Regions from separate parts of the Homo sapiens genome. Here regions 1 and 3 are each linked to region 2. Evidence: fine-mapped expression QTL. A gene starts in region 2. Each other region holds a variant in brackets. All regions are shown on one strand. Distances are from middle to middle.

Region 1 (2,758 bases), 42 kb before region 2:
CTGCAAAGAGCTAGTTTATGATCTGGACCTAAGAATCATCTGCGCAGAGATAGGTTTGCCCCTTAGTGCTCCCCTCCCTTGTTTCTCACAGCCTTGTTTGAGCTCGACACCCTCAAAGGAGAAGTGCTAACTTTTCAACTCAAAGAAAGAAGATTGTTTCACGACCAAGGTCCCTTGATTCAAGTGAAGAAGCAATCTGTCTTTATTATGAGAAACTGGGGAGGTGGGGCCAGGCCAGACTCATGTCAGAAGGCCCCTCAGTGAGAAGCGAAGAAGCAATCTGTCTTTATTATGAGGAACTAGGAGGTGGGGCCAGGCCAGACTCATGTCAGAAGGCCCCTCAGTGAGTGCAGCCCAGGAGACTGGTCACATTCTGGGGTTGCGGAAGGGCCTTGGCTGCATTCAGTTTCTCCACATCACTGTAGCAGTACAAATTGGGACCATGGATGAGGTACAAGCCGGGACCATTGGCGGAACATGAGTTAGGGCCAAGGGACTTTTCCATACACAAGGCTCCGTCTACCTTCTCATGGGGCCAAGGAAGCTCTGTCCACGTGGCTTGGGCTCCTGACTTCAGGTCCAGCCACCACAGCCGCCGTCCTGGGGAGAAGGCACCAAACATAGCATGGCTTCCATGTCATGGGGATCCTGACCTAGGCCTTCTCATGCCCTGGGGATCCTGACCTAGGCCTTCTCATGCCCTGGTGGGGATCTATGCCACAGACAGGTAGCAGAACAAGCTGCCCTCTAAGCACCCAGAAGCCCCTCACCTGCCATGATATGGAGCCGAGAAGACCCAGGGCAGATAAAGGCCGCATCCACAGAGTCCAGGATAATCCCATGAGGGGTCCCGACTTCCTTCTCCAGCCGCTTCGGATAACCGCTTACTAGGGTATAGCCTCCCTTTGTCAGGAAGACATATACCTGGGTGCCCTGGAGGACAAAGGATGGTAATAAATACAGAGTTGGATATGCTTGTCCCAGTCTCTACCTCAAGCCTCTCCCCCAATACACACCTGGACCAGATAGAGTTTTTCTTCCCAGGAAAAGGCAGCATCCACTGCTGAAGGACCCTGGGGCCACTGATGAGCAATGGGCCAGCTATGCCAGCCATCCCGGCTGGTGTCCAGACGCCAGTAGTGGGTCCCTGTGGAATACCATAGGTTGCTCTAGGGCCGCTGGCAGAAGCCCAGGCAGAGAAGAGGCTAGTGATGAATGCAGAAATGAGTCATGAGAGGGAGAGAATGCATCCAGAGGCCAAGATGGAAGAGGCCAGGTGAGAAGGAGAAATAGAGCAAGACTTGGTCAGCAATGTTGGGCACTGTGCCCTGGCTGAAACTGGA[A/T]TCAGCAGGTGCCTGAAAGAAAGGCAAGTGTGGAAAACAGTGGCTAAGTTTCCAGGTAAGGCCAACATCATGGGGTTGGCGGGCACTCCCTAAGGATTTCAGGTGTCCATGTACAGAGATGCGGTTATAGATAATGAAATACAGTGTCCAGAACTTAAAAAGGAAGCACCACTTCTACTGAATGTTCTCACTCTGGCTGTGTTCTCCAGTCTCTCCCTATGAGGTGGTGGAAGAGTGAGGGAGTAGCTGGGCTAGCACCCCGTTTTTCTTCTCCTCTTTTCACAACAACTTATTAAGGAATTATCTAGGCTCCCATTTGTCTTTTTTCCTCAATCCTCTTCAATTACACTTCTGTTTCCCTCAACCATTGAAATTGTTCTTATCCAGGTTGCTAGTATTCTCCAATTTGCGAAATCTCATGGTCAATTCTCTGTTCTCATCTGACCCTACCTCTCAGGAGCACTGGACTGCTCACTACTTCCTTCTCCTTTAAATGTCTTTTTTTGGAACTTGGCTTCTGTGACACCTGACTCTCCCAGTATTCCTCTTATCTTTTTTGACTACTCTTTTCTTCAACCTGATATCTAAATATTGGAATCCCCTACTTTGGGCCTCTTCTCTTCTCTCTCTACCTTCACTTCCTTGGTAATCTCACCTAGTCCAGGGGCTTTAAATGCCATCTATATGCTGATGACTTCCAATCTGTTCTCGTCAGCTCTGACTGACCTCTCCTTTGAGGTTTAGGCTCCAAATCAGCTGCCTACCTGACATGCTTATGGGGTGCCAATAGGCACCCAAAACCTAATATGCCCAAACTGATTTCTGCCCCCCACCAACACACACACTCCCTAGTCTTTCCCAATTTTAGAAAACAAAACCACCAGCCACTCAGTTGCTGAGTCCACGAAAGCTGAGTCATTCTTGAAGCCTCTTTTCCCTTCCCTACTCTGACTGATATCATTCATTCATTCATTTATTTAGAGACGGAGTTTCACTCTTGTTCCCCAGGCTGGAGTGCAATGGTGCAATCTCGGCTCACTGCAACATTCACCTCCCAGGTTCAAGCGATTCTCCTGCCTCAGCCTCCCAAGTAGGCTGAGATTACAGGCATGTGCCACCATTCCCAGCTAATTTTGTATTTTTAGTAGAGACGAGGTTTCACCATGTTGGTCAAGCTGGTCTCGAACTCCTGACCTCAGGTGATCCACTCGCCTTGGCCTCCCAAAGTGCTAGGATTACAGGCGTAAGCCACCACACCCGGCCTATCTTAGCTATTAGTTAATGCTGTCAGCTCTACCTCCAAAATATATCATGGTGATTCCTCACCACCTCTGCTGCTATCATCCTAGTCCAAGCGGTCATCACCTCTAATTTGGACAACTGCACGGATTGCTAGCTGGATTCCTTGCTTACAT
Region 2 (2,758 bases):
TAAGGAAGCTTTTCCACAGCAGAAAGTAGCAAGTGCTCTGTCACTGGAGGCATACAAGCCCAAGGAGGCAGGGCTACTGTCAGGCCTGCAGCTCTGATTCCAATTCTGCAGCAAATCATCCCCTGCTTAGGGGATGAATGGGCACCAGTGAGCTAGACAGACTGGCCAAGGGAGACCTGTGATGTTTTCTGCACCTGCTGTGACCTCCCAGATGTGATCTTCCTGCTAGGGCCAGTCCTGAGTTTCTGTTGTCCACATCAGAGAACCCCCACACCAAGAACAAGCCCAGGGCCTGCCCTCAGTCGAACTGACCTCCCTGGGGTGCAGCCTGCCCCTCCAACCTGCAACCATCTGTCCCTGCAGGTTTGCAGCCCAGGATCTGAAGCCAATTGCAGAAGGGAGGAGGTCAGAACCAGGGAGGGGCCTGGGGTCCTCCAGGCAGGGCTCAGGCTACAGGAGAACCAGAGGGGTCCTTTCCTACAAAAAAACAGCCTCCACATGAGGCTTTCTGTCCACAGAGCAGTGCATGGGGAGGAAAGGGTGTCCTCCATCCTGACTGGTGGGCCTGTGGGTACCAGAGGATGGAAGGGGCGGGGGGTGGGGTAGGGTGGGGGTGGGGGAGCAAGGGGTGGAGGTGTCTGCACCAGGGAGAAAAGAGCCCTTCAGACAAGATGGGCCACAATATTCCAGAGTCCCACTCAGCACGCACCACCACCACCACCCTCGGCCGCAGCGTTCAGCACCCTCCGCCAACACACACAAGCTCCCAAACCCCGCGCTCCCCTAAGGAACCATCACCCATCCACCCGCGCCTCCCCGCCTCAAAACAGGGACCTCACGTGAGCAGCCACAGCCCGAAGAATCCCCCTGCTGCTCTCACGGACATGGACACGCCTCACGTGGGCAGAGAGAGGCACAGCTTTTGAAAATCATCTGTGCCCCCACCCACAGACGCTCCGACCCAGACCCGGGCTGACAGGAATACAAACGCACCCTTGGGGCCCGCCCGTCGCACTCACCGCGTTGGAACAGGATGCGAGGGCAAAGCTCGGACTGCGGCCACTCTGAAGGGCCCGCGGCGCTGCTACTGCTGCCAGCGCCCGTCCGCCCGGCCCTGCCCGCGCCTCCGCCTGTCCCCGCGCCGGCGCCGCCGCCGGACTAGCCGCACAGGCCGGAGGGAGGGGCCGGGGCGGGGCTGCGGACCGGCCGGGGGAGGGGGTGACTCCAGTAGGGAAGACCCACCCACGCCCCGCCCGCCGCCGCGGAGGCCCCGCCCACCCCGCCTGCCCACCCCTACCGCACCCGCACGCCCCCCCGCCAACGCCTCCACCTCCTGCGGACGCTGCCTCCTTGGTGCTGCTAGGGAGCCGGCGGGCCGGCGAGCCGGATCCCGGATCTCGGATCCCGGATCTCCGCCAGCTGCCTCCGGCTCCGGGAAGGGCGGTGTAGTCGGTCTCAGGGATTGAGATGAGACTCCGTCAAGAAAAGGCAGCTGGGGCAGCAGGGATTTCGGACTCTGGGAGCCTGTCTGGGCCGCCTGCCTCCTGGAGGCGCCCTTTCCGGCTTCCTTGGAGTGCTCCTATGGAATATGCTAGTCTATCGGCTGACCAGGAAGACGTAGAAACCGTCTGTACCTCAGCACGATCTCTGGGCGGCAGAAGGGCAGTACCCAGAACTCTGGGAGAAGGAGTTAAGGGGTAGAAAGGTGGGGGATTTGATTAGGCTTTGGGCGCTTCAGGAGCCCCCTCCTGAGGAAATTCTGGTTCAGACCATCCAGCGACTCCCTTCCTCACACCAAAGACACTGGACAATTCTCAGAATCATCGCCTTGTGCAAAAAGCAGCCCCAAGTGGAAAATAATTGTAACAGTTTACAGGGACTGAGTGGTTATTATGTGCCGACACAGAACTAGCCACTTTACATATATTATTTAATAGTCAGTAGGTAGCATCTTTTATTAGCCCAATTTTACAATGGGAAAAAATAGGGATCTTGCTCCCCAGACGTTAGCCCTCATCACTCAGCTAGAAAGTGGCAGAACCTGGAGTTGAGCCCTGTTTTTAGGCCCTACAACCAGCATTTGGAGACTCGGTACCTTTCATGTTGAAAAATCCCCAGTGGCCCATTAAGTGGCAGCTCATATAAGGACCACCTTCCCTGCCCCAAAAATCAAGCTCTAGTCAGATGATTGCAGGCTGATCAAAGCCCAGAAGACTGTCTGGGAGCTGCAGTATCCATGACAAAGGGCAAAGTCATGCCTGTGAGGATCCCTGCACTATGGGAATCTGCTGAGTGGGTCTTCCCCTTCCTCCAGCCTTCCAGAGGTGGGGAAAATCCTGAAAAATTCTGGTTTCCTTGGCCAAAGGGCATACAGGTGATGACACCTAGCCCTGACTAAACCAAAGTGCTGTTAGGGATCTTTCTTGTGACCTCTCCACAAGGTTCAGATTTAGGCTCAACACCTGGGTGCAGCAGGAGCTTTGGGAACCGCCTCAACCTCTTATCCACCTGAGTTCAGCACATAGCACAAGATGCTCCAGTGCTTGTGAAGGAAACCCAGACGGGGATCATGCTTGCAGTTTTGGGCTGGGGCTACTATGCTACCCAAGATGAGGGAACTGGAGTCTAGATGACACTATCTTAAGCCTCAGAGGACTACTTTTCTCAACTCTATACTTCTCCCATGCAGTCAAATTTCTGCTTAAAACACTTCTCAGCTCCTTCTCCAGAGGGCAAAAGTCCTTAACCAGCCTGCAGT
Region 3 (2,758 bases), 29 kb after region 2:
GCAGTTTGAGAGGCCTGAAAGAGGTAGCTGTCTGAGGACTTGTGTGAAGACATCAGGCAGAATGAGCCCACAGCTGATTGGACACCAGGAACCCGTAGAGGAGCAAATGTCCTTGGTTTTGCGATCTTCTGAATATACTATATAATATAGGACTTTGCTGAGAAAATGAACCTATAAGAGCAATTATACCATTTAAGATGTCCTGATCCAACACAACAGTTCATCAAGGACATATGTATAAAGGTTATAAACCATATTGTTGATATGAATTCTAGAATAGGATTGCACTGTTATCCCTGGGGAAACTTGTGTTGATCTAAGTTTGGGTCAGTTAATGATACTGGTATATTCTGACTGGCTAAGTCTAAGTTAAATCATTCCAGAGTTTTTTTTGTGTGTGTGCTCTCAGGTCTCCCCAACTAAAAATTATTAGTCATTCACTTTTGAGTTATTGGTAACTAATTTCCATACCAATTTTGTTGACCAGAATGCAGAAGAGTAAGAGGATGAGTGTATTGGTGCAGGCTTGAGGGGGCCACCATTGGATCTTGGCAGGAAAGGAAAGAATATGAAGCTAGAGGTTGGGTGATGGTAGGGGAAGAGCAGAAAATGTAACAGGCATGGAGATCATTCAGGGTTGGAAAGCAGGTATAATGGAATCAAAGATAGGATATTAAATCTGAAAGGCCAAGAAGGTTGAGCTGGGAGGGGAAATCCAGTACTGTGGGCTTACAGAGCAATGAGTTGGGAAAATAAAGTCTTCCCATTATTTGTACACAGTATTATGTAATACTGACTTCATGGTAATTCCAATCAATCCAGAATGATTATTTGTTTATCAGAAAGGGAGAGGTTGCTCACACACATGTTTGTGTCAATATTGTTGCCTAACTGTGTTCTATGATACGCTATATTTGCCCAGTATGTGGTATCTTTGAGTATAGATGGTAGTCAGGCTCGACAATGCCACGTCAGGTCTCCTCAGGCACCTGATCTAGTCCTCCTTTCACTAGCCAACAGTGGCAAGGCCTCCCTCTAAGGTACTTGACCTTTTTACTCTGCCTTTTCTCTCCTGATTTTCTGTCACACAGGTCTCAGCTTGACTATGAAGTTCCCAGGGAAAAGGCCTTCCAAAAGAGCAGCACCGGCTTTTCACCTGAGACTTCCTTCCTGGATAGCCAGGTGATGACTGCTCTGAAGATGGAGAGATACCTGAAGAAGATCCACTTCCTCTATCTCAATGTGGCTCCCAGCCGGTACTTTAGGTGATAGCCTATGTCCAGGCCCCTTCTCCTCCCCCTGCCTGGTTTCCTTCTATGCTATCTTCCCCCTCCTCTTTCTCCACGTGCGCACCCTTCTCCCTGTCCTTTCTCCACATACTCCTCCTCTGACTCTAGTGTCCCTCTCTCTTCCCTTCTCCTCAGCCTCCTCCTCCTTTCCACTCTCTACCTCCCCTTCACTCCCTGTTGCTTACACAGCCTTTTGTCTTACACATCCTTTTCTCACATTTTGCTCTTTCTTTTTTATTCTATCCTAGAATGATAGAAACATTTGTTCACAGCCTTAGAAGTAAATTTTATGGTGATCTATTCCAACTCCAATGGAAGAAACATGTGTTTGTTTAAATCTTTACAGTGTCAGGAAAATTTTTTTCCAGGTATCTT[G/A]TTCCTTAGACTGAATCAAAATCTGCATTCTTTTAACTTCTACCTCCTGGCTCTAGTTTATCTATGGGGCTATAAAAACAGGTCTCCTCCTTCCCCATGACTCAAGAGACATTTATTCACTTCCTCTCATTAGATCCAAATCACACCTACTTTTAAAAATTTCTTCTTATTATTTTGAAGCAAGGGCTCACTCTGTCACCCAGGCTGGAGTGCAGTGGCACAATCATGGCTCACTGCAGTCTCAATCTCTCTGGCTCAAGCAATCCTCTCACTTCAGCCTCCTGAGTAGCTGGGATTACAGGCATGAATCACCACACTCGGCCAGTTTTCTAAAATTTATTTTTTGTAGAATGAGGTCTCACTGTGTTGCCAGGCTGGTCTCAAACTCCTGGGTTCAAGCCTCAGCCTGCCAAATTGCCAGAATTACAGGCATGAGCCACCATGCCTGGCTCAAATCCTCGCCTATTTTAAAAAGCCCTATTCAAGTCCATCTCCTCCCAGAAATAATTGTAATAATTGCCTTTAACCAAACTCTTCAATATATTAGGCATTGTGCTAATAAACTCATGACATGTGTTACTTAATCCTCATCTACCAGGTAGGTGCTATTATTATTTCTATATATGAGATGAGTGGACTGATACATAAGAGAGGTTAAGTAATTTATCCAAAGCTACATAATAAATGGTGTAACTAGGATTTAAACCTAGGACTATCTTAATCCAAAAGTTCATGCTCTTAAGCAGTATCTAATACAGCCTCCCAAATAACCTTATTTCCTGTGCACACTGATCTCTTGAACTTAGGTAGCACTAATGATCAATATCATTCATTCATTTACTGATCAATTCATTTAATAAATGTTCACTGAGAGCATCCTGCTGGTTATTAATTGATTGCCTCTTGATTCTAATTCTCCTCCTCCCTCTCTGCTTTGTGATACTGGGGCTGAGATTCTGCAAACTTTTTCTCTTTTTTCAGCTGGCCTTCTATTAGGTTTGATTAATGGAGAGTGCTGGGAGACTGGACAGCAAGATAAGAGGGGAAGGGACTTGCTGCTTCGTTTGCTTGCTCTTTCTGCCATCATTGCCTCA

Which allele goes with the higher level. Positions count from the first base shown, and alleles are read on the strand shown. Sizes are in standard deviations (SD) of each study's normalised expression. Not every link is listed here.
In carriers of allele T in region 1, the expression in tibial artery of the gene that starts at base 1,170 in region 2 tends to be higher than with A alone (moderate effect, 0.63 SD a copy in GTEx).

What was found. PIP is the estimated chance that this variant, and not a neighbour inherited with it, causes the effect.
Region 1: its variant is the best candidate, but not a certain one, in a credible set for the expression of TRIM3 in tibial artery (GTEx, PIP 0.80).
Region 3: its variant is the best candidate, but not a certain one, in a credible set for the expression of TRIM3 in nasal epithelium (TOPMed, PIP 0.61).

Annotation. Positions count from the first base shown.
Region 1 is chr11:6,430,871-6,433,628 of GRCh38, forward strand. HPX (hemopexin) reads right to left here. Exons shown (of 10, transcript NM_000613.3): 8 at 1,017-1,147; 9 at 771-933; 10 at 179-600. The coding sequence ends at 341. Among named protein-coding and RNA genes, the nearest start is that of HPX, 8.7 kb to the right of the region's middle. The variant A/T (reference allele first, on the strand shown) is at 1,344.
Region 2 is chr11:6,472,772-6,475,529 of GRCh38, forward strand. It overlaps TRIM3 (tripartite motif containing 3), which reads right to left and starts at 1,170. Exons shown (of 12, transcript NM_033278.4): 1 at 1,020-1,170. RefSeq lists enhancers at 1-770, 771-1,709 and a silencer at 1,067-1,296.
Region 3 is chr11:6,501,662-6,504,419 of GRCh38, forward strand. DNHD1 (dynein heavy chain domain 1) reads left to right here. Exons shown (of 43, transcript NM_144666.3): 4 at 1,092-1,265. Among named protein-coding and RNA genes, the nearest start is that of DNHD1, 5.8 kb to the left of the region's middle. The variant G/A (reference allele first, on the strand shown) is at 1,665.